Homo sapiens: one gene and its partners. The protein of the gene in region 1 purifies or fractionates together with the protein of each later gene. This does not show direct contact. Each region holds a gene or a part of one and is shown in the gene's direction. Other genes may lie near its edges.

Region 1 (4,226 bases):
AAGTGCTGAGATTACAGGCGTGAGCAACCGTGTCCAACCCTATTCCGTTAGTTCTGTCCCTCTGTAGAACCCTGACTAATAGAGTCATTTCTGGTAAATGCTAATGTTAGACAGAAACGAAACTTAACATTAGCCAACCACAAGCAGCCAACTAACATACAATTAAGTAGCTGTGGACTTTTCAACAAAGGAAACCAAAAAAGGAGATTTTTTAACTGTAACCAATTTTATATATATATATGTATATATATATATATGTGTGTGTGTGTGTGTGTGTGTGTGTGTGTGTGTATATATATATATATTTTTTTTTTTTTTTTTTGAGAGGGAATCTTTGTTGCCCAGGCTGGAGTTCAGTGGTGCAATCTTAGCTCACTACAATCTCTGCCTCCCGGGTTCCAGCGATTCTCCTGCCTCAGCGTCCACAGTATCTGGGATTACAGGCACATGCCATCACACCCAGCTAATTTTTGTATTTTCAGTAGAGACGGGGTTTCACCATTTTGGTCAGGCTGGTCTCGAACTTCTGACCTCAAATGATCTGTCCGCTTTGGCCTCCCAAAGTGCTAGGATTACAGGCGTGAGCCACCATGCCTGTCCCCAACAAAATATCTTGCTTCCATATTCTCCCCATAAATATTTGCCTCTGATGCATTGTCATGGGAACACTCAACCTCTTTCCATCTGGTGTTCCCCGATTCAAGAATTGCCTGTTACTCAAGTATACTCTTAAAAAAGTTTTGTTGATCCTCAGACTTTACATTTTAACACCACCCTACCTCCTAGAGCGCCAGTTTTCTGATCTGTAAAATGGGTGTTGCGGATCTTTCACTCCCTAGGACTGTAGGGAATAGAAAGTCTCTGGTTGTCAATGTCAGTCAATGTCAATTCCTTCTGCCTCCCCCATTTCACTACTGGGAACTCCGAGGCCCAGAGAGGGGCATTAACTAATGTCAACTTTAATAACGGGATTCAAGCAATATGTTTAAGTAATTTATTTAAGCGTAAAAGAAAATATAGGAAGAGGCAAGTTGCCGTGGCTCAGGCCTGTAATCCCACCACTTTGGGAGGCTGAGGTGGGAGGATCACTTGAGCCCAGGAGGTTGAGGTTGCAGTGAGCCTGATCCGCCACTGCACTTCAGCCTGAGCGATAGAGTGAGACCCTGTCTCTGAAAAAAAAAAAAGAAAGAAAGAAAGAAAAGGAAGGAAATTAATCTATATCAAAAGGTCAGTCCTTAAGGGGTCTGCTCCATTTCTCGGTCTCCAAAGTCAGCCCTTCTCAGGGCCTAACAACTTTTAGAAGCCCCAAATAGACAGACTGTCCATTTCTTTCTGCACTTGGCCCAGTCTCACTGCAAGCCACGCCTGGCTCAGCCCCGTCCCGCCTTGAGCCTCGGTGTTCCCACCTAGGGGCGGGCAGCCAGGGGCACTTCCGCTGGCCCAAGTGATCTGCATGTGGCAGGGCTGCGCAGTGGAGCGGCCAGTGGGCAGGATGACGAGCCAGACCCCTCTGCCCCAGTCCCCCCGGCCCAGGCGGCCAACGGTAAGTGCGAGGCTAGCTGCGTCCCCGCGCCTCTGTCCTCCGCCTCTTCCCTCCGCCTCTTCCCTCCCTTCCAGTTTCTCCTGCCCGTCCCTCCCAGACGCCCGAGCCCCCTGCTTCTGGCGCGCTGTCCCCCTTCACCTCGGGCTGGTCGCTCTCTTCAATCTTTGCCGTCCCTCCTGCTGGGATCACTCTCCTTTCGCGCCTCGGTGTCCCTTTCTGGTTTGGCTCTGTCCAGCCTTTCCTCTTTGCCCTTTTGCTTCCTCCCTCTACATTGGGTCTTTAGTTCCTTTCCCTTGTCTCTTCCCCACCGGCTTGTCCTAGCCCACGACTCCTCCTCTGCCCCACCTTCTCCCTTGCTCCCGGTGGGAGAAGCCCATCCAACCAGCTCGGCCAGAGGATCTTTCCCTCACCTGCAGCCCTCTCCAGCCTGCCCCTGCCCCTTGGCTGGGTCTTCAGCCTGCCCCTGCCCTCTGGCTGGGTCCCAAATCCCTCTGCTTGCCTGCCTGGTCCCCAGCTTGGGTGAGGGGAGTTGGGGAGGAGGATGGGGAAAAGGCTGCGTGCACTCTGGGAGCAGAACATTCGGGTTCTCTCCTGCACTGAGAGTCATCCTGAAGACCTGGAGGAAGAGAAAGCAGATCCAGCAGCAGGGCAGCGTGGCTCTCTCTAATAGGGCCATGATCACGTCATTGTTGTTGGCTATTGACAAAGCCACATGCCTAGTGCCAGGACCACCCTAGGTGTTCCATAAATGCCTGAATGAATTACTGGGGAAGTGTAAGGCACTGTGCATGATGCCAGGTAGGGCAAGATTGGCCTTGAACAGAATACTAGATGCTCCTGTAAATCAGAGGATATTCCCCTCCCTTAGGAGCCTCACAGAGTTTTTGTTTGTTTGTTTGTTTGTTAAAATAGAGATGGGGTCTCGCCATGTTGGTGAGACCCAGGCTGGTCTCAAACTCTTAGGCTCAGGCAATCCTCCTACCTCAGCCTCCCAAAGTGCTGGGATTACAGGCATGAAACACAGCACTTGGCCAGGAACCTCACAGTCAATGAAGAAACAGGGAATTGCAAGGGAAGAACTGCCAGGCCAGTGGAAGTATAGTAGTGTAGGACTTTCTGGGATCACAGTGAGACAACCCACCCCGAAGGACTCCCAGAGGAATTCATCTGAAGGATGAGTGGGGTCAGAGAAAGGAGTGCGGATGGCCAAGTGAGTGAGCTTCTGGAGGTGAGGGGGCTTGCCCAGCTCTGGATTGGAGGAGTGGGGAGCAGCAGGCAGTTCTGGTAGTTGATTGCGAGGGGTGAAGTAGCAGCCTAGTTGCAAAGGGCCTCTAAACCTTGTTATGGAGTCTGCTGTTTATCTGGAAGGGAATGAAAAGTTACTCAAGTGTTTAATGCAGGGAGTGACAGGATCAGATTTGTACTTCAGAAAACGTACTCTCAGCCAGGCGTGGTAGCTCATGCCTGTAGTTCCAGCACTTTGGGAGGCAGAGGTGGGTGGACCACCTACCTCAGGCGTTCGAGGCCAGCCTGGCCAACATGGCAAAACCCTGTCTGTATAAAAAATAGAGAAATTAGCTGGACATGGTGGCACACACCTGTAGTCCCAGCCACTCTGGAGGCTGAGGCAGGAGAATCGCTTGAGCCTAAGAGGTGGGGGTTGCAGTGAGCCGAGATTGTACCACTGCACTCCAGCCTGGGCAACAGAGTGAGACCTTGTCTCAAAACAAAAAACAAGCAAACAAAAACAAAAAACAAAAAGAAGCTTAGGAACACGGCTGAGGTCTTGTTTGATAAAGAAATGGAGCTGAAGATGTCAGTGCAGGAAACTTTTTTTTTTTTTTTTTTTTTTTTTTTTTTTTGAGACAGGGTCTCCCTCTGTCACCTAGGCTGGAGTGCAGTAGTGCAATCTTGGCTCACTGCAACCTCTGCCTTCCGGGTTCAAGCAATTCTCAGCCTCCCAAGTAGCTGGGATTACAGGCATGCACCACCAGGGCCCAGCTAATTTTTTGTATTTTTAGTAGAGATAGGGTTTTGCCATGTTGTCCAGGCTAGTCTTGAACTCCTGGCCTCAAGTGATCCTCCCACCTTGGCCTCCCAAAGTGCTGGGATTACAGGCGTAAGCCACTGCACCCAGCCTGTTTTTTTGAAGCATCTGGAAATTAGCTTCAGAAAGGATATTTGATGTGATTGGATCTGTTAGACTTTCAGAGCTGGGGAAGCTTAGCATTCTTTTGGTCCATTTTGCCTCCCTATTTCACAGATGACTAAGCTTAGTTCCAGAGACGGAAAGCAAAGGGCCCTGGGCACATATCAAAGTATTGGCAGTAGGGGGGCAGGATGTTGGGAAGGATGGCGGTGAGGCACCCTTACTGTGTTGGAGTCATGCTAATACAGGTATCATCTCAGCTCCAACTTCATCACATCCTAGCTGTGTGACTTCTGTCTGAGCTTTCCTTGCCTGTAACATGGGGACATTAGGAGGACCTGAGAGCTTTCAGTGGTGTAGGAGTAATGAGAACATATTGGTCCATTCAAGGGTTAAACTCTGCAGCTTTGCATTTAACTGCGAGCTTTACAGAGGTGACTTCAGGGTTAACCAAACAGCCCTGCCAAGGGGCCTTGAGGTTTATGGGAGAAAGAATCAGAGGTTCTGGGCTTATTTTTCTCAGCTCTATTGTTT
Region 2 (2,403 bases), on another chromosome or scaffold:
TTCTTTCCAGCCTGACTTTATGACTTCTCTGTTTTCAAGAATACGTAGCAAATGAGGCTGGTCACCAAGGTGTGTCTGCCTAGGCCTCTATGAGCATGTTATCTGCTTGTCTTTGAGTTTCTGTTCGTTTTACGCCGGCTTTTCAATGCAGGATTTCATTGACCTGCTTTTGAAAAATTCCCTCAGTGCTGTGTTACTAGCTCTTCTGGGCCCCAGGTGAGAACCTTAAACAAGTAATGTCTTTCTTGGTCTTGCCACAGCTTCTGGAAAACATGACAGAAGTGGTTCGGAAAGGCATTCAGGAAGCTCAAGTGGAGCTGCAGAAGGCAAGTGAAGAACGGCTTCTGGAAGAGGTGAGGCCCCCGATGGGCAGCAGGCTGGGGGAGCCGCCGTGAGGCCAGGTGGCCCTGAACTCTGGTCCTGTCTTGCAGGGGGTGTTGCGGCAGATCCCTGTAGTGGGCTCCGTGCTGAATTGGTTTTCTCCGGTCCAGGCTTTACAGAAGGGAAGAACTTTTAACTTGACAGCAGGTAGGACGGCATAGCCTCTTCCCAGGTCTTGCTGACCTTGGGAGGTTTCACCAAATGCCCTTGGGTCCCAACACTTCCCACTGAGAATCCCGCCCTGGTTCCCGTTCTTCATCACTGGGTGTGGGCCGGACATCTGAGGAGACAAGTTCTGGTGTGCCCTGTCCTCCTCCCCACCGCACCCTGGCGGCTGAAACAGCAAGGAAGCAGCTACCCACTCTCCACAGCTGTCACCACCGCAAGGCCATGAGGACACGCCCACTCAGCCGTGCAGACTCTCAGGGTGCTGTGTCTTGGGCATTTTGGTTCAGGGTTAATACTTCTTGTCTTCATGTGTGTTCTGCCCCAGCAGAGGACAGCTTTTGCAAGTGGCAATGCAGAGACTGAAGCATGGAGTGCTGGCACGGTTTATTTTGAACCAGGCAGCCAGCAAGCGTTTCAGCCGCTGGAATGTGGGGAGGGTGTTAACAGTCCGTGACTCCTTTCCTGTTCTACCAAGGAAATAATTTCCTACACTCGAGCCCCTTCCTTCATTCTTTCCCAGGAAACGATGACTCCATTGTCATGAAAGCAAAAGATAATCTGATTTCTAATCTGCCAAGCCTTAGCCTTCAGCAAAAAGGCACCCACTTCTTGTGGCTACAGTACGTTTCCCTGTTGGGCCTGGCTCCCTGGGTGTGCTTACGCCATACTGCTGGCGGATGCTGGCGGTACTGGCCCTGTGAGGTGGCTTTCTCTAGCTCACGGCACATTCATAAGTGCCCTTCTCTCCACCAGTCTGTGGCAGGCTCAGTGGCTGGAAGGAGGTTATTGGGGAGCAAGGCTGTGTGAGGGCAGGTGGTGTCTTCAAGGGCAGCCTGTGCCTGTAGCTTCTACCCAGCCCTCTCCTCTCCCGCAGGCTCTCTGGAGTCCACAGAACCCATATATGTCTACAAAGCACAAGGTGCAGGAGTCACGCTGCCTCCAACGCCCTCGGGCAGTCGCACCAAGCAGAGGCTTCCAGGTAAGTGACGCCTCTGCACCGAGTTCAGGTAACAGGTTTCCCCTGTTGACTGTTACTTGCGTTTGTTTTCTGGGTTCTTGAACTCCAGAGGTCTATTTCTCTTAAGACCAACTACTACCATCTCTTTAACCATCTTGGTAGCCGTGGGATTCAGCCTTGAAGAAATCCCACGGTAGTGCGCTAAGGGGAAGTTGGGGTCTTGAAAGATGACATTGTCACTGTGGTGTTTACCCTCCTGGGCGTTTCCTAATGAAGATGACCTTAGAGTTCCCCGGCCTGGGGAGCATGTTGGTGTCAAGCTAGCAGCTCTCGGTTTTCTCATCTCCTAAAACACCTCAGAGCCAGTAAAGGTTTCTGCTGAAGCTGTGTTGTGAAATAAAGCAATTATCTGTTGCAGAGACAGCCTGTGTTGCAGAAGTATCCTCACTGAGTTTCAGCGCAGTCTGTCTGCCCTTTCTGTAGGCCAGAAGCCTTTTAAAAGGTCCCTGCGAGGTTCAGATGCTTTGAGTGAGACCAGCTCAGTCAGTCACATTGAAGACTTAGAAAAGGTGGAGCGCCTATCCAGTGGGCCGGAGCAGATCACCCTCGAGGCCAGCAGCACTGAGGGACACCCAGGGGCTCCCAGCCCTCAGCACACCGACCAGACCGAGGCCTTCCAGAAAGGGGTCCCACACCCAGAAGATGACCACTCACAGGTAGAAGGACCGGAGAGCTTAAGATGAGACTCATTGTGTGGTTTGAGACTGTACTGAGTATTGTTTCAGGGAAGATGAAGTTCTATTGGAAATGTGAACTGTGCCACATACTAATATAAATTACTGTTGTTTGTGCTTCACTGGGATTTTGGCACAAATATGTGCCTGAAAGGTAGGCTT
Region 3 (3,500 bases), on another chromosome or scaffold:
AACACCTTCACTGAGACCAACAACCACTGGCCCCAGGGACCCACTGGGCCTCCAGGCCCTCCAGGGCCCATGGGTAAGTTGAGTCCAGGCCAGGGGTAAAGGGTGAAGTTGGTAGATGGCAGAGGGAATAGGGTTTGTGGCTATCAGGAGGGAGCTGATGGGGCACTTCCTGAGATTGTACTTTGTTCCGGCCCTTAGGACATCCTGTCTTTTTCCAGGTCCCCCTGGGCCTCCTGGCCCCACAGGTGTCCCTGGGAGTCCTGGTCACATAGTGAGTAGTTCTCCTTGTACTCTCACCCATGTGTCTGTCCATCTTTCCATCTATGCATACATCCATACATCTGTCCATCATCCACCCTTGTATCCATCTATCCATCCATCCATTCATCCTTCCATTCATTCATTCAACAAGTATTTATTGAGCACTTAATATGCAAACTACCTTCCATAAATCTTATTCAATCCAAGTAATGAGAACCATGTGTGGTTATCACCTAAGACCAAGAAAAGTAGAGATTCTTGTGCCAGCACATGGCAATGAGCTGTGGTGGGACTGTCTGACTCCAGGATCAGATCTTTTAACACTGAGCTGTATGAACTGACTGCGGTGTGCTGGGTGTATGGTGAAGAACCCAGAGGCCCAGACCAAGCTTGAGCGCCCTCCCCAACACCTCTGTTCCCAAGCCCCTGCCCACTCCATCCTGCCCCAACACAAGGCTGAGGCCCTGTCTTGTTGCTCAGGGACCCCCAGGCCCCACTGGACCCAAAGGAATCTCTGGCCACCCAGGAGAGAAGGGCGAGAGAGTGAGTACCCAGGTGGCCCCAGGTGGGGGAATTCTGGGGAGTCCTGAGGGCCCCAGGTCAGAGTCCTCAACAGCTGACGCCATTCGTCTCCTCCCTCTTACACAGGGACTGCGTGGGGAGCCTGGCCCCCAAGGCTCTGCTGGGCAGCGGGTAAGTGTTGCTGTCTGTCCCGCATTCATCCCTGCAGGATCCCTTAGTCCCAGATTCCTCCTGTGACTCCATCCCCTGCAACCAGAGCTTCTAACCCTCCCTGTCTTGTCATTTATTTTCAGATGCTCCCTGTCTCTGAGACTCATTGTCCTCTTTGGATTAGGCTGCCTCTGTCTCTCTCACTCTGGCTCTCTGTTTCTCTGTATCTCTCTCTTTCCCTCTGTACGTCTGTCTCTTTGACTCTGTATTTCATTTACACTCTATCTCTCCAATTCTGATTGTAGATCTGTTCATTTCTCTCTTTAATTTGGTGAATTTTGCTTTACGTATTTTGAGTCTTTGTTATTAGGTGCATTCACATTTAGTATTTTAATGTCTCCTTGGTCATTTTATCTTTATGAAATTAATATCTTTATCTCTGATAATACTTGCCTTGAATCGACTTTGTGTGCTTTTAATAGCACACCAGCTTTCTTATGCTTGCTATTTGCATGTTATATCTTTTTTTATCCTTTTTTTTTTCAACCTGTAACTTTATATTTAAAGTGCATCATGGCTGGGTGTGGTGGCTCACACCTGTAATCCCAGCACTGTGGGAGGCCGAGGAAGGTGGATCGTTTGAGCTCAGGAGTTCAAGACCAGCTTGGGCAACATGACAAAACTCTGTCTTTATATAAAAATATGTATATAAATTTTATTAAATGTAAGAAAGTGTGGACCGGGCACGGTGGCTTACGCCTGTAATCCTAGCACTTTGGGGGGCTGAGACGGGTGGATCACCTGAGGTCAGAAGTTCAAGACCAGCCTGGTCAACATGGTGAAACCCCGTCTCTACTAAATATACAAAAATTAGCCAGGCATGGTGGTAGGCACCTGTAATCCCAGCTACTCGGGAGGCTGAGGCAGAAGAATTGCTTGAACCCAGGAGGCAGAGGTTGCAGTGAGCTGAGATCACACCATTGTGCTCCAGCCTGGGCAATAAGAGTGAGACTTCATCTCAAAAAAAAAAAAAAAAAAAAGTGCATCATATGACTTGGGTCTTGCTGTTTAAAAACAGTTTGACTGTTTAGTTAATTTATATTTAATGATATGTATAATTGATTAATATGGTTCTGTTTAGCCATCTTGCTGTTTATGTTCTATTTATTCCTTCTGTTTTGTGTTTCTTTTTTCCCTTTTCTTTTCTTGTCTTCTTTTGGATTGAGTACTTTTTATGATTTCTTTTTTCTTTTTTAGAGACAGGGTTTCCCTATGTGCCTAGGCTGAACTCAAACTCCTGGGCACATAGTGAATGAAGTGTCTTAAGTGATCTTCTTGCCTCAGCCTCCCAAGTATCTGGGACTACAGGTGTGCACCATTGTGCCTGACTTAAAATCTTCTCTTTCTAAAATTAATTTTCTTTCTAGAATTAAAGCTTTCTAGAATTTAAGCTTTTTTTTTTTTTTTTTTTTTTTTTTTGATACAGGGTCTTTCTCTGTCACCCAGGTTGGAGTGCAGTGGTGCAATCATAGCTCACTGTAGCCCCAACCTCCCTGGCTCAGGCAATCCTCACACCTCAGCCTCCTGAGTAGCTGGGACCACAGGCATGTACCACCATGCCCAGTTAACTTCTATTCCTTTACATTTAATCTGTTTTGTGGTTATATTTAAAGTCAGTTTCTTATAGAAAACCTACGGTTAGGTCTTATTTTTTGGTCCATTCTAACAATCCTCATCTTTTATTTGCTGCATTTAGGCCATTGACATTTAAAGTGATTATTGAGGCCCAGCATAGTGGCCCACACCTGTAATTCCAGCACTTCAGGAGGCCAAGGCAGGAGGATCACTTGAAATCAGGAGTTTGAGACTAGAGTGGGCAACAAAATGAGACCCTTTTTCTATAAAACAAATTTAAAAATTGGCTGGACGTGGTAGTGTGCACCTGTAGATTCAGCTACCTGAGAGGCTGAGCTGGGAGGATTGCTTGAGCCCAGGAGTTTAAGGTGACAGTTATAATTGCTTTACTGCATTCCAGCCTGAGTGACAGAACCAGACCTTGCCTCTAAAACATAACTAAATAGTCTGTGCACGGTGGCTCACACCTGTAATCCTGGCACTTTGGGAGGTGGAGGCAGGGGGATCACCTGAGGTCAGGAGTTTGAGACCAGCCTGGCCAACATGGTGAAACCCCGTCTCTACTAAAAACACAAAAATTAGCCAGGTATGGTGGCGCACTCCTGTAATCCCAGCTACTCAGGAGGCTGAGGCAGGAGAATTGCTTGAACCTGGGAGGCGGAGGTTGCAGTGGGCCAAGATTGTGCCACTGCACTCCAGCCTGGGCGACAGAGTGAGACTCCATCTCAAAAAAATAAGTCAATCAGTAAAATAAAAAATAACTAAATAAATGAAGTGTTATTTATATAGTTGGGTTAACAGCTACCATATTACTATTTTCTTTCTTTTTTTTCTTTTTTTTTTTATTTTTTGAGGCAGAGTCTTGCTCTGTCGCCCAGGCTGGAGTCTAGTGGCTGGATCTCGGCTCACTACAAGCTCCGCCTCCCGGGATC
Region 4 (3,500 bases), on another chromosome or scaffold:
AAAATAGTTTTTCAAGAATGTCTTTCTTTTTTTTTTTTTTTTTTTTTTTTTCTGAGACAGTGTCTCTCTCTCTCGCCCAGGCTGGAGTGCGATGGCACGATCTCGACTCATTGCAGCCTCCACCTCCCGGGTTCAAGCGATTCTCCTGTCTCAGCCTCCCGAGTAGCTGGGATTACAGGCGCACGTATTTTAGTAGGGACGGGATTTCACTGTGTTGCCCAGGCTGGTCTCGAACTCCTGAGCTCAGGCAGTCTACCCTCAGCCTCCGGAAGTGCTAGGATTACAGGCGTTAGCCACCGTGCCTGGCCTTTTTTTTTTTTCTTTTTTTTTTCAGAGACAGTGTCTCACTCCTTCATCCAGACTGGAGTACAGTGGTGCAATCTCAGCTCACTGCAACCTCTGCCTCTCAGGTTCAAGTAATTCTTGTGCCTCAGCCTCCTGAGTAGCTGTGATTACAGGCATGCACCACTGCACCTGGCGAATATTTGTATTTTAGTAGAGACAGGGGTTTCACTATGTTGGCCAGGCTAGTCTCGAACTCCTGACTTCAAGTGATCTGCCTGCCTCGGCCTCCCAAAGTGCTGGAATTACTACAGGTGTGAGCCCCCACGCCCAGCCAAGAATGTCTTAAAATACTCCCTTTAAGTGTGATTTTGTTGGGAGGGCAGCCCTGTTCCTGCATTTTGGAATTGCTGTACTTACATTTTTGCTTTCTCTAAAGCAGAGTGTGGTTCCCATGTTAAAAAACAAAAGGAAACAAAAAAAGGTAACATGCTTGGAAATGACTTTTGTGGTAGTTACTTTATATGTAAAAATCTAGAAGGTGCCTAATCTTAAACTGAGTAAGGCATTTACTTAGAATTAAAGATAATTTACCCAGCCTGGGCAACATGGCAAGACCTCGTTTCTACAAAAAATAAAAAAACTAGGCCAGGCGCAGTGGCTCACGCCTGTAATCCCGGCACTTTGGGAGGCTGAGGCGGGTGGATCACCTGAGGTCAGGAGTTAGAGACCAGCCTGGCCAATATGGTAAAACCCCATCTCTATTAAAAATACAAAATCAGCTGGGTGTGGTGGCCTGCATCTGTAATCCCAGCTACTTGGGAGGCTGAGGTAGGAGAATTGCTTGAACCTGGGAGGCAGAGGTTGTAGTGAGCCAAGATCGTGCCATTGCACTCCAGCCTGGGCAAAAAAGAGCGAAACTCCATCTCAAAAAAAATAAAAATAAAAAATTAGCTGAGTGTGATGGCATGCACCTGTGGCCCCAGCTACTCAGGAGGCAGAGACGCAAAGGTGGGAGAATTGCTAGAGCCCAGAAGGTGGAAGGTTGAGGCTGCAGTGAAAAGAAAATTTACTACAAAGTTTAAGATTTAAAGTCAGTGGTCTCCCTTTTTCCTGCATCCTCCAATTGAAGTTCAGTTTTTACTTTCTTAGTTGCAAAAATTAGAGACAGGAAACAATGAAACAAGCTTGTGATCTGAAGAATTTGACTTGTATCTAGTAGCTTCAGCATGTTCACGGGTCATAGGAGGTTATGGTCCCAGTGAAAGTTACATTCTTGGCCAGAAAAATCCCTTCAGGAGGTTCTTTTTCCCACATTGGATTGTTCACCCCAAACAGCTGTGAATTCTGGTTTGCAAAAGGAAGTCCAGGCTATTTCTGCCCTAGTCTTTCATAGGGAAAGTAAATTACTGGGTTTTTAGCCCAGAAACACTAAGGAAACCCCAGAAGTAGACAGTGGAGAGTTTGTTCTTAGAAAAATCAGGCTCTCCTGTGGGTAGGAACTTGGTCTCTTTTTTGGAGAGCTCTCAGAAAATATTTCCCACACTGATTTCCAAAGGATTATTGGGAGATTTTCTGTGGTAGAGAAAATTATATCGTATAATATGTTACATTCATAGAACATCTTCACATAACTTTGGTGTGGTTAGAGTTAATGGTAGTAATACTGGAAATTATATGGTATGTCTTCATATTTATCCTTTCTCAGTAATTTGTAGATCAAGTTTGTTTAGTTTACAAATCAAAAAAGAGTTTTTAAAACAAGTCAGTTGTCTCTGCTTTGAAACAAGATAGTTGTATCTGTTTGTGATATTATTACCACTGATCCAGGAAGCAGAACTGCCTCCTGGCCTACTTAAGTGGTGAGGACATACTATGGTGGCTAAGGATCAGGTTCTGACCCAACTCTGCCTTGTGACTTAGGCAAATTAAGTCACTTTTCTGCGCCTCTGTGTCTTCATATATATAATGGGCCTGGGATGGTGCCTATCTTCTAAAGCAGCATTAAATGAGCTAAAGGATGTAAGGCATATAATGCCTGGCACATGGCAAGGGTTTGGTAACCCTCAGCTGCTAGAATCATCTAATGGGAGCCAGGTGCTTGCCACCCTTGATGAATCAGAGTGAGGACCCTGTTAAGGACATATCTTTTATTGATGTTGCCATTTTAACATTTATAATAATTCACAGCAGAAGCTCCCAACCTTTTAAACTATGAAGAGTCCCATAGTTTTAAAAAGCCTGAAAATTGGCAATGGTGGCAAAGTTACAAAGCAATCCAGGTCCACAATCCTTTGTTTGAAACCTTGGGGCCAGATATGTTTTCAGGGTGCTGACTCAATATTGTATATTGAGTCCCTAGTGGGACTGTGGCAGCACCCTGGAAACATTGTATTTCTACAGCAAAACCTGTAAATATTGACTAAATGGGATAAATATGAAGCCGCTTCATATCAGCGTAGGTCAGGTTTTGCAGCTAAATGACTGCTGCTAACTTATGAAAATATATTTTCAGAGCTTTTTGGATTTCTGAATTGTTGATAAGGGACTGTAAACCTCTGCCTTTATGGTAGAAAAATTGCAAGACAAAGAAATGCACTAAGAAGAAAATAAAATCAGTTATAATTTTACCACCTACAGAAATTAACTTGAAATTTTGGTGTACAATCTTGTTTTTTTCTGTGCAAACTTTTTTTTTTAACAGAAATGACATTATTTTGTATATACTTTGTCTCATGTTTTCACGAACTATATTGTGAAAACACTTTCCTATATTTTCTGTCCTCCTCAACCTCATTTTAAATGGATGTGATATCCGTGGTATATATGAATTGTAATTAATTTAACCCCTTTCCTGACATGGAACATGAGTTTGTTTTTCGTTTTTTGCTATTAGAACAGCTCTGTGATGAACATGCATGTGGATAAGTTTGTGTGTACATTCTGCTTATAACATTTGATATATTCAATAGAATGGTAGGTGTAGTTTCAACATTCAGCCATTGCAGAAATCAACAGCTGAATATTCAAATTGCACCTCAAAATCAACAAGAAACATACATGTTGTTGAATTTGAGGACTCATAGTAATTCTGAGGCCCCTTACATCTCCTGGGTCCTTCTGACTGGGAAGTAATATACTGATTTATGGTTGCTAAATACTACTTATATTCAGAAAGTAACCTTTGTGCAAGCCCAGGACTTTTTAATGGTTAACTT
Region 5 (4,138 bases), on another chromosome or scaffold:
AATTCTGACACCAGATCAAGCCTGTCCCAGTGGCAGAGGGTTGGACTTGCTTTTTCTGCATGATACCTAGCAGGGTGGCAACCAGAGGCACTAGAAGTTTGGGTTTGTTCTCCCACGCTCTGTGTTACAAACTTCCCCCAGATCCAGCTCCTTCCTCCCAGGAAAACCATCCTCGGGCTCCTGAAGTGCCCTTTCCTGAGCTTTCCAAGGACACAACTGCTGCCCCAGCAATCATCACAAGAGAGGAAGATGGGCATGGAAAATAATACACTTACAAAAAAACTGTGCAAGGTTCTGCAGATAATTTTTTTTTTTTTTTGAGACAGTCTCACTCTGCTGCCCAGGCTGGAGTGCAGTGGCGCAATCTCAGCTCACTGCAGTCGCCACCTCCCAGGCTCAAGAGATTCTCCTGCCTCAGCCTCCCGAGTAACTGGGATTACAGGCACCTGCCACCACTCCCGGCTAATTTTTGTATTTTTAGGAGAGACAGGGTTTCACCATGTTGGTCAGGCTGGTCTTGAACTCCTGACCTCGTGATCTGCCTACCTCGGCCTCCCAAAGTGCTGGGATTACAGGCGTGAGCCATCACACCAGGACGGTTCTGCAGATAATTTGTACTACTGTTTGCCAGTACATGTCTTTGTGTTATTAGTATTCATTTTAGGGGAAAAACCCTCAAATTTCAGCCAACTGGACTTTGTGTTTGGCTTTAAATGTTTTCCGCCACTGTCCATCCAACAGTCTCGCTTCATATTCGTATCCTGGTTCCCAAGTCCCTTCGAGGAGAGATTCTCAAATGCGGTCCGTTTAAAATCACCCAAGAAATACAAAAATTAGACAGGCATGATGGCGGGCGCCTGTAGTCCCAGCTAATTGGGAGGTTGAGGCAGGAGAATCACTTGAACCCGGGAGGCGGAGGTTGCGGTGAGCCGAGATCACACCACTGCACTCTAGTCTGGGCGACAGAGCGAGACTCCATCTCAAAATAATAATAATAATAAGAAAAAGTAACAACAATAATAATAATAATAAAATCACCCAGGAGCTCAGCGTGCAGACCCCCAGCCGCAAAGCCCAGAGAGCCCCTTTTGGGAGGACGGGGCGAGGCCCAGCAATCCGCGTTGGGAGTGGTCCCGCGCGCCGTTCTGATCTGGGCAGCCCTGGGCTAGCGGAGACCACGGCGCCTTGCCTCGGCCACGGCTCACGAGACGCCCGCGGCCCCGACCCCGCCACGACGGGACGGGCGGGACAGGGGAACACGCGCGCCCGGAACCCGCCGCCACGGCGCCGCGCCGGGGGGACGCGCTTGGGCGACGGACGCGCCGCGCCGGGGAAGCTGTTGGGCGCCGGAACTGGTCCGGCCCGACTCACGACCCCGCGGGACCCGGCCGGAACCCGGCCCGACCCCGGCGCGCGCGCGGCGGAGGACGAGGAAGAGTTGTGGCGAGGCAGATCCTGCCCCGTGGCCGCGGCCGTCTCGTAGGTGCGGGCGGCGGGGCCCACGGGACCGCGGCGGGGTCGGCCGGGCGCAGAGCTCTCGGGGGCGCGGGCTCCGGCGCCCGCCCCTGGGTCGCAGCTGGGCTTGAGCCGTGGCCCGTGGCGCGGTCGCTTCCCCGCGAGCCGCCTGGGGCCGGGCGTCGGCCTTCCCGGGACGCCGAGCCTCTCGTGTCCGGTGGGGAGCGGGGCCCCCGCGCGGGGTGCGGGGAGAGAAGCTGTGCGGACGCCGGGCCCGGTGATACCGTCGAGCCGGCGGGGTCCGTGTTCAGGCATCCTCAGAACGAATCGTCTTTGGTTGTGTTTGGAATAAATTCACTTCCATTTCTCATTGGGCTTCAGAAGTCACCCTTGAAGTACTCCCCGTTTTAGTTGTTTGCTGCGTGCACCTTGCTGGGCGCGTGGGGCACAGGTTCACAGCCGGCCTAGCCCCTGAGGGCATGTAGATCTATGAGCAAGCAATGGAGACGTGCGGCCGGCCGTGAAGTATTTGGAAGGTACTGCAGGCAGCCCATTCCCTGGAGAGAGGGAAGGTTTAAAGGGGTGAGGCCCGGTGCAGTCAGGAGTTGATGTTGCTGTCCTGAGTCTAAATTCCACCAGGCAGGCCAGGTGCAGTGGCTCATGCCTGTAATCCCAGCGCTTTGGGCAGCAGAGGCAGGAGGATCACTTGTGGCCAGGAGTTCAAAGCCAGCCTGGGCAACATGGTGAGACCCCTATCTCTACAAAAAAATGTAAAAATTAGCTGGGTGTGGTGGCGTACACCTGCACTTCCAGCTACTGGTTAGGCTGAGGCACGAGGATTTCTTGAGCCCAGGAATCGGAGGCTGCAGTGAGCCATGACAGCACCATTGCACTCCAGCCTAGGTGGCAGAGCAAGACACTGTCTCAATAAATAATAAAACTGAAAAAGAAGAGGTGATATTTGAACTGGGCTTGGAAGAATGATTAGGAATTTGCTAGAAAGGGAACACGTTTAGAGATAGGAACACGAATTGTGTCTGGGGCATAGTTGTTGCTTTCCCATCCTGGGAGGACAGACATTCGTGTTAGGGCCCAAGGCTGAGACCTTGTTGAGGAGGGGGTTCACATGGTGGACCCAGGAGCACGGGTGTTACTACCGGTGGACCCTGGGGACCCTGCGAGCTTTGTAGCGTGAAGCCTGGCTCAGGCTGGTGTCCTCTCCGCAGGTGTTGGAGGACATAAGATGAGGCTTCCCTTGCTCTTGCTCCTTTGGCTCTGAACCATCTCCTCAAGGCAGACAGAAATGGCGGATTAAACTGTGGGCTTGGGATAGTTGTAAGTGTCACCTTTCCAGATGGCATTTTTAAAATAGTATTTTTCTTCCTAAAATGGATATGGGTTTCAAGTGTATTTTTCCTTTTTGGTTTTTTTTATTTGAATGTACTGCTCATGAATGCAATGTGAATGTCTGTTACTTAAAAATGTAATTTTGAAAATAACCCTCCAAACCACAGGTGTGATGCTGAAACGCATCCTGCCCCGCAGGCCGAGCACAGCCCTCCTCTGCCCCACGCTCTCATCGGGGCAGCCGACAGGAGGAAGTGCCGGCATCCACTTCAAACACAAGGTCTGGGGGGGCGGGGGTGTCAGGTGTGGTGGTGAACAGGTCAGGTGTCGTTTTATTCATGTTGAAAGCAGCCCTTCATTTGAATGCGAGTGTCATTCTCATCTAGTAATTTTTGTTGCGAGGCTCCATGGGGAGCACCCTGCTGAGCACGGCGCGGCCGTTTGTCTTCTGCCTGGCCTGTGCCGGGCCATTCGTACATTCTCACGTGAAGCCTGTGAGGCAGGTCTTGTTACTGTGCCATCTTAGCGGTGGGAAGTGAAGGGCTAGGCCAGTGAGGAAATGAGGACAAAGGCAGCAGCCGTTCAAGTCGAAGCCTGTGGTGACTAACTCTGCCATTAACCAGCACTCCAGTTAGGAGGGAAAAGATGCATCCCGCTGCGCTGCATGTGTGTTCCCGAGAAGCCCCAGTGCCTTAGTGGTCTGATCTCAGAACCTGATGGCTAGAACACCGAGAGGTCCTGCCTCCCTCCCCGAGGGCTGGAGAGCCACTGTTTTCAGTGGTTCCAGTACGCCTTCACCAAGGAGGCTGTCCTGGCTCAGGCACCTTTCTCAGCTTCTGACTAGAGTCCTTGCCCAGCCACGTGGTGACGCCGCTGACCTCGGGTTATCAGGGTGCTGCGTAGCAGGGGTATGAAGCTGGCTGAGGGTGGAAGCCCCTGACTGAACTGCATTTGTCTGGTGGGCAGTGTCCCTCCACACTGTGCTCCTGGTGGTGATGGGGAGCCCCACGGTAGAAGGGGTCCCAGTGGTTGAAAGGTGAGGTTCTCTCTGAGGAAGCTGGGGTGCCTCTGGACCGGGAGGTGTGCAGGAAGACCGCGCACAGCCATCTGCCCTGAGTAGGCTCTGTCTGCGTGTTCGAGGCAGGGCTCTGATCCGATGACCGTGAAGATTCAACCTCTGTGCTGAAGAGAACTGATGACTGGGCACTTCATTGTCCCAAGCCTGAGGGACTGAAAAGCTGGTTTGATGGGGCTGGTTCCGTTTTCCACATGCTTGGTGGGAGAATAAATCAGCACCTCGTTGGAGGGGACTTTGTCAGTATTTCTCAAAATTAAA
Region 6 (3,500 bases), on another chromosome or scaffold:
TCACAAGTTTATAGTATATTGAAAATTCTTGCAGGTTTTAATGCTGACACTGCAGAACGATCCTCCTTCTTTGGAAACTGGTGTTCAAGATAAAGAAATGCTGAAAAAATATGGAAAATCATTTAGAAAAATGATTTCATTGTGCCTTCAAAAAGATCCAGAAAAAAGGTAAAATATGAGAAAAAGTCTACTTTTCTCTCTAATAAAACATTGTGAGAAGTCTAAGAATCACATACTCATATGTACAGGAAATTATTTTCAAAAGAACTAAATATAAACTTTAAAAAAGTATACAGAGACCATTATACTGGATTGGAAATGAATTGATTTCTGCCTTCTTTGTAGTATACAGTGTACCCTAAATAGTTCAGCTTTTTCCTTGTTAATTTCTTACAAAGTTGTACATTGTGAATTCTGTATTAATAAATGCCAAGTTAGTGGAGAGATTTGTTTTTAATTTGCATTTAAAATTTATAAATGAATGTCTTAATGCCATTTACAGTATTAATAAAGGAAAGACACATAGAAAATTTATATTTAGTGTAATAATCATACTTATTTCCATGTTAGAAAGATATTTTAGTAAGTGGACCAAAAATTCAAATAGCTTCCTTATCAATGTTAGACAGATTGAATGACAAGTGAGCAAATAAATAAGAACATCCGATATGTGTAACTTCATGAATTAAGCAGAATCGTAGAATGTTGGGGATCATTGAGTACAACCTTTTATTTTTGAGGTCACTTGATACTTAGTCATAGGAGTAGGACTTGAATCTCAAAGTCCTGATTCCTAACTTAGGGCTCTGTTCCTTCTGAATCTTATCTGTCTGTTTCACATATATATTCCACTCAGCTTCTTAGCACTGAGTTCTTTAATTTTTGTTTCTCTAAAGATCATTAAAAGGGAAAGACTTTGATGTTCTTGATCACATCTCTAGTGTATGTAATAGGGTTTCAGAATTTATTGTTGGAAATATTGGAAAGGGTAAGAAAAACAGGTAGCAAAATTTATACCTGTGTTTTTATAATTTTTTTTTTTCTGTTTCTGAGTAAACAGTTAAAAAAGACAGGAAACACTTTTCTTTTATCAAATTAGTTGGTTAAAGGAACAAAATTATCCTGTTACAAATACCTAGAAATGCCAGATAAAATCTATCCAACTTAAAGATTCTCAGATGCCAGAAATAATGAGGAAGCCCTAAGTTAAAGAAGAAATATTGTGAACTAATCCCATGGCTGTTTTCAGTGGGTCACTATTCATTCTGGTAACCTACTGATTTGGATTTATAACTCCCATGTGAAAACTGGAAGTGAGATCTTGGGTCCACCCAGTGGGGAGTTTGAACTGAGATTCTTCTTAAAGCTAAGAACTTCAGATGTCAGTATCCTTAGTAAAAGGATAGACAAGAATAAAAATTGTCATCACCAAGAGACAACAAAAACCTCTCCTGAATAATCAAGCCCTTCAACCTGGACATTCCACAGGTTTAGAGTCTATACTCCCTATGTTATCCAGGAACCCACAGGATTAGAAAGTTAAAAAAGCTTTACCAAATCAGTTTTTATTTTTGACGGAAGTAGTCACAGAGCTGCACTGGAAGAACACTTTCAAACTCTAGCTCCCATTGGATTCCTGAACATAATGCCCCACTGTAATAAGGTCACAATCCAAAATTAAGAAACACACAGTGAAACAATGCATTATGAACTAGTTAGCAGACACAAGCAGAAGGATTAGTGCTCCAGAAGATTTAGGTAATGCAGTGAAAATCTGAAAAGATACAAAATTAAGTATATTGAAAATAATTAAAATTAGAAGAAATCAGACCCACAAGAGAAGACTGTGACTATGACAGAAGAACCAAATAGCAATGCCAGAAATGAAAAATACAGTGATTAATGTTTAAAACTTTCCATGAGTGTGAGCTGGACTTGTTGACTCACTTCTGATGAGTAGAGTATGAAAAAGGAAAAATAGCAACTTTACAATGCACCTCCTCTACCCAATGACCAAGGTTAACATCACTATTAATAATACATTGATAAGACTGATATGTGCCTCTTGATATGGTGCAATGAGAAGGGCATATATATAACCTGTGAGGTATTCTTCCTCCAAATCCGTAACTTCGGTCTATAATGAGAAAACATCAGACAAACCCAAATCGAGGAATATGCAGCAAGATACCTGACCAGCACTCTTCAAAACTGTCAAGGAAGAGAGACTAAGAAACTGTCACAGATTGGAGGAAATTAAGAAGACGTGAAGACGGAAAGCAAGAGTATCCTATACTAGATCCTGGGACAGAAAAAGGACATTAGTGGAAAAACTGGAGAAATGGAATGAAGTCTGTAGTTTAGTTAATAGTATTGTACCAGTGTTGATATTTTAGTTGATTTCTTTATTATTATACTGTGGTTATGTAAAAGGTTCACAATAGCAGAAGGTGGTGAATGGCATGTAGGAACTCTGTACTAGCTTTGCAGCTCTTCTGTAAGTCTAAAATTATTATAAAACTTTAAGAAAACTGGAAGCTATAGAAAATCTATTCCAGTTTGTAAACCAAAATTAAACTTTGTTTAGAACATTGCTAAGTTAAAATAACACGCACAATGGACTGGTTAAACAGAACAACCAATAAAACAAAAAAGAGATTATTTACTCATCAAGTACCAGGCACTGTGGTAAACACTTAACATATATTGTTTAATTCTCACAGTAATCCTTTGAGGATAGCACTGTTATTTTCTTTATTTTACAAATGAAGAAACTGAATCACAGAGAGGTTAAGTAACCTTCTCCAAAGTCACACAGCTAATAAATGGTGGAATCAGAATTCTGACCCATGCAATTGGACTAGAGTTAACCTGTTTTAATCAGACTACACTATACTGAGGAAATTGCTCAGAATGTGGCACAGAAAGATCAAAGAGGGAATATGAAAGAAATATTAACATTTGGAGGGTAGACTGAGAAGGTTCAGTATGTTTGTGTGTATGCACATCCACACACACACACACACACACACACACACACACACACACACAAATGTACGTATACATATACATGAACTTACCAGGAAAGACTAGAGAGAGTATAGGAGAAGCGATATTCAAAGAAATAATGGCTGAGAATTTTCGAGAGTTGATGAAAGACCTATATTCTCAGAGTAAAGAACCATCCCCCCAGAATTCCAAGCAGTGTCCCCCTTCTTCCACTTGTACAAGTTGCTGTGAAACTACTGGACACGAAGCAAAGACAAACTCCTACAGGCAACCTCGGGGAACAGATTACCTACTGAGGATTAGCAGGTAGACTTGACAGCTACTTCCCCAATAACACAACAGTTGAGGCCAGCGTTTAGTGAAATGCTCAGAGAAAATGCAGTCATGTGTCACTTAAAATGATGAGGATACATTCTGTAATATGTGTATTAGGCAGTTTTGTCATTGTTTGAACATCGTGGAGTGTACTTACACAAACTTTGATGGTACAG
Region 7 (3,500 bases), on another chromosome or scaffold:
CACCACGATCAAAAGGAACAAGTATCAAGCACGCAGCAACGCAGCTCAAAACGCTTAGCCTAGCCACACCCCCACGGGAGACAGCAGTGATAAACCTTTAGCAATAAACGAAAGTTTAACTAAGCTATACTAACCCTAGGGTTCGTCAAGTTCGTGCCAGCCACCGCGGTCACACGATTAACCCAAGTCAATAGAAACCGGCGTAAAGAGTGTTTTAGATCAATTCCCCTCAATAAAGCTAAAATTCACCTGAGTTGTAAAAAACTCCAGTTGATACAAAATAAACTACGAAAGTGGCTTTAACGCATCTGAACACACAATAGCTAAGACCCAAACTGGGATTAGATACCCCACTATGCTTAGCCCTAAACTTCAACAGTTAAATTAACAAAACTGCTCGCCAGAACACTACGAGCCACAGCTTAAAACTCAAAGGACCTGGCGGTGCTTCATATCCCTCTAGAGGAGCCTGTTCTGTAATCGATAAACCCCGATCAACCTCACCACCTCTTGCTCAGCCTATATACCGCCATCTTCAGCAAACCCTGACGAAGGCTGCAAAGTAAGCGCAAGTACCCACGTAAAGATGTTAGGTCAAGGTGTAGCCCATGAGCTGGCAAGAAATGGGCTACATTTTCTACTTCAGAAAACTACGATAACCCTTATGAAATTTAAGGGTCGAAGGTGGATTTAGCAGTAAACTAAGAGTAGAGTGCGTAGTTGAACAGGGCCCTGAAGCGCGTACACACCGCCCGTCACCCTCCTCAAGTATACTTCAAAGGACATTTAACTAAAACCCCTGCGCATTTATATAGAGGAGATAAGTCGTAACATGGTAAGTGTACTGGAAAGTGCACTTGGACGAACCAGAGTGTAGCTTAACATAAAGCACCCAACTTACACTTAGGAGATTTCAACTCAACTTGACCACTCTGAGCTAAACCTAGCCCCAAACCCATTCCACCTTACTACCAAACAACCTTAACCAAACCATTTACTCAAATAAAGTATAGGCGATAGAAATTGTAAACCGGCGCAATAGATATAGTACCGCAAGGGAAAGATGAAAAATTATAACCAAGCATAATATAGCAAGGACTAACCCCTGTACCTTCTGCATAATGAATTAACTAGAAATAACTTTGCAAAGAGAACCAAAGCTAAGACCCCCGAAACCAGACGAGCTACCTAAGAACAGCTAAAAGAGCATACCCGTCTATGTAGCAAAATAGTGGGAAGATTCATAGGTAGAGGCGACAAACCTACCGAGTCTGGTGATAGCTGGTTGTCCAAGATAGAATCTTAGTTCAACTTTAAATTTACCCACAGAACCCTCCAAATCCCCCTGTAAATTTAACTGTTAGTCCAAAGAGGAACAGCTCTTTGGACACTAGGAAAAAACCTTGTAAAGAGAGTAAAAAATTTAATACCCATAGTAGGCCTAAAAGCAGCCACCAATTAAGAAAGCGTTCAAGCTCAACACCTATCATCCGAAAAATCCCAAACATATGACTGAACTCCTTGCACCCAATTGGACCAATCTATTACCTTATAGAAGAACTAACGTTGGTATAAGTAACATGAAAGCATTCTCCTCCACATAAGCCTACATCAGACCAAAATATTAAACTGACAATTAACAGCCTAATATCTACAACCAACCAACAAGCCATTATTACCCCCACTGTTAACCCAACACAGGCATGCCCACAAGGAAAGGTTAAAAAAAGTAAAAGGAACTCGGCAAACCTTACCCCACCTGTTTACCAAAAACATCACCTCTAGCATTATCAGTATTAGAGGCACCCCTGCCCGGTGACATATGTTTAACGGCCGCGGTACCCTAACCGTGCAAAGGTAGCATAATCACTTGTTCCTTAAATAGGGACTTGTATGAATGGCTCCACGAGGGTTCAGCTGTCTCTTACTTTCAACCAGTGAAATTGACCTGCCCGTGAAGAGACTTTTAAGTTCAGTTTTTTAAAGGAGATCCACTAAATGTCAGGATGTCCATCATATCTATGCACATAGATAAGTCCTCAATGTCATCTGTGAGTTCTTGGAAACTGTGACTTTAAGTGAAACAATGTAGAGCAAAACCAATTTTACCATAGGCTACTGGATGTACACAAGAGTTAAGTTCCTAGGGCATATTGCTGGTCACAAAAACATCACCAAACTTCTAAATGAAGGCCAAAAACACTTCTAATAGAAAACACTGAAGTAAATATGAGCTATACATACATTTAAGAAGAATAATGTGCATGTCTTTGGGATGTGGAAGGAAACTGGAATACCTGGAGAAACCCCATGCAGACATGGGAAAAGCATGCAGACTCCACACAGACGGTGGCCCTGGCCAGGAATTGATTATTTTTCTCATCAACGTTAGAAGAAAACGATGTTATTCAAGGACATGTTGTATATAAATACATGAAAATATATGTATATTCCCAAAATATACTTAGGCTTTCTTTGTGATTTTATAGGTAAACAGAATCTGGTGATTATGGGTAAGAAGACCTGGTTCTCCATTCCTGAGAAGAATCGACCTTTAAAGGGTAGAATTAATTTAGTTCTCAGCAGAGAACTCAAGTAAGTACCTTAACATAAATTCACCACAAGAAAATCATGTCTCATAGTGGAGATCAGTATATGATAAAATGAAATTGTATAAAAGGAGCTATTGATGAAGCTGCTTAATATCACAAAGGTGATTATAGAAAATTAATAAGCAGTTATTTATACTACATGACAATAACTTATTCTACTACCTGAGTAATTGATTTCATCACCTTGAAAAGTTACATTAAACATTAAATAGCTCACTGTGGTATCAGATTTGCAAGTTATCTTGAACCATCATTCAGTAGGCCCAAATATAAATTATACAGTGTAATCAATAACCTGTAGTTTCACATAAAGTCAAAACAACTATTTTTTGGGACTTGCTAAAATTAAGTGATGATCCCCTTTCTGGACCCAACCCTAAATGCAATAAAATGTGAATTTTAGGATGGGCTGAAATGGGTCATAATCTTCTACTCTGTTATTCCTAGTTAACCACAATACCCAATAATATTTTGTACTTAACATTCATTACCCAGTGTCTGAAGGTAAAACATTTCAAAGTATTGAAATGGTTCTAGAGATCCTGGAGAGAAGCGGGTATCTCCAGTTAGCCTCTGCTAAGAATTTTCCTGTCCTCCAACCCAGGGTTGGAGTCAGTAGTTCATGAAGCCTGGATATGCCCTGGTGACTGGAGAGTGGGAGGGGTAATCATATTAAGACTGCCCAGGAAGTCAACTCCAATGGCTTGGGAGGTTGAGGGGTGGCCAGAATTGGACCTGTGTTAATCCATTCTCATGTTCTTATAAAGAACTGCCCAAGACTGGGCAATTTGTACAGGAAAGAGGTTTAATTGACTCACAGTTCCTCATGGCTGGGGAGGCCACAGGAAATTTAAAATCATGGTGGAAGGGGAAGCAAACGCATCCTTC

Evidence for each region.
Region 2: the proteins of KCTD14 (region 1) and PDXDC1 purify together in Homo sapiens (affinity purification with mass spectrometry; one large-scale study listed by BioGRID and IntAct). This does not show direct contact.
Region 3: the proteins of KCTD14 (region 1) and EMID1 purify together in Homo sapiens (co-immunoprecipitation; one large-scale study listed by IntAct). This does not show direct contact.
Region 4: the proteins of KCTD14 (region 1) and ANKS1A purify together in Homo sapiens (affinity purification with mass spectrometry; one large-scale study listed by BioGRID and IntAct). This does not show direct contact.
Region 5: the proteins of KCTD14 (region 1) and ACSF3 purify together in Homo sapiens (affinity purification with mass spectrometry; 3 studies listed by BioGRID and IntAct, with this or other methods). This does not show direct contact.
Region 6: the proteins of KCTD14 (region 1) and OXSR1 purify together in Homo sapiens (affinity purification with mass spectrometry; one large-scale study listed by BioGRID and IntAct). This does not show direct contact.
Region 7: the proteins of KCTD14 (region 1) and DHFR purify together in Homo sapiens (affinity purification with mass spectrometry; one large-scale study listed by BioGRID and IntAct). This does not show direct contact.

What each region holds. Positions count from the first base shown.
Region 1 is NC_000011.10:78,020,477-78,024,702, reverse strand, and holds the start of KCTD14 (BTB/POZ domain-containing protein KCTD14), read left to right. Parts: upstream 1-1,426; 5' UTR 1,427-1,453; coding exon 1,454-1,543; intron 1,544-1,681; exon of another isoform or gene 1,682-2,160; intron 2,161-4,226.
Region 2 is NC_000016.10:15,034,026-15,036,428, forward strand, and holds part of PDXDC1 (pyridoxal-dependent decarboxylase domain-containing protein 1), read left to right. Parts: intron 1-260; coding exon 261-353; intron 354-431; coding exon 432-528; intron 529-1,423; coding exon 1,424-1,528; intron 1,529-1,925; coding exon of another isoform or gene 1,926-1,990; coding exon 1,991-2,250; 3' UTR 2,251-2,403.
Region 3 is NC_000022.11:29,233,396-29,236,895, forward strand, and holds part of EMID1 (EMI domain-containing protein 1 isoform 1 precursor), read left to right. Parts: coding exon 1-73; intron 74-218; coding exon 219-271; intron 272-741; coding exon 742-804; intron 805-909; coding exon 910-954; intron 955-3,500.
Region 4 is NC_000006.12:34,895,755-34,899,254, forward strand, and holds part of ANKS1A (ankyrin repeat and SAM domain-containing protein 1A), read left to right. Parts: intron 1-3,500. UniProt on the Homo sapiens protein: Regulator of different signaling pathways. Regulates EPHA8 receptor tyrosine kinase signaling to control cell migration and neurite retraction.
Region 5 is NC_000016.10:89,092,514-89,096,651, forward strand, and holds the start of ACSF3 (malonate--CoA ligase ACSF3, mitochondrial isoform 1 precursor), read left to right. Parts: upstream 1-1,338; 5' UTR 1,339-1,483; intron 1,484-4,138. UniProt on the Homo sapiens protein: Catalyzes the initial reaction in intramitochondrial fatty acid synthesis, by activating malonate and methylmalonate, but not acetate, into their respective CoA thioester. May have some preference toward very-long-chain substrates.
Region 6 is NC_000003.12:38,224,537-38,228,036, forward strand, and holds part of OXSR1 (serine/threonine-protein kinase OSR1), read left to right. Parts: intron 1-34; coding exon 35-168; intron 169-3,500. UniProt on the Homo sapiens protein: Effector serine/threonine-protein kinase component of the WNK-SPAK/OSR1 kinase cascade, which is involved in various processes, such as ion transport, response to hypertonic stress and blood pressure.
Region 7 is NC_000005.10:80,648,484-80,651,983, reverse strand, and holds part of DHFR (dihydrofolate reductase), read left to right. Parts: intron 1-2,489; coding exon 2,490-2,595; intron 2,596-3,500.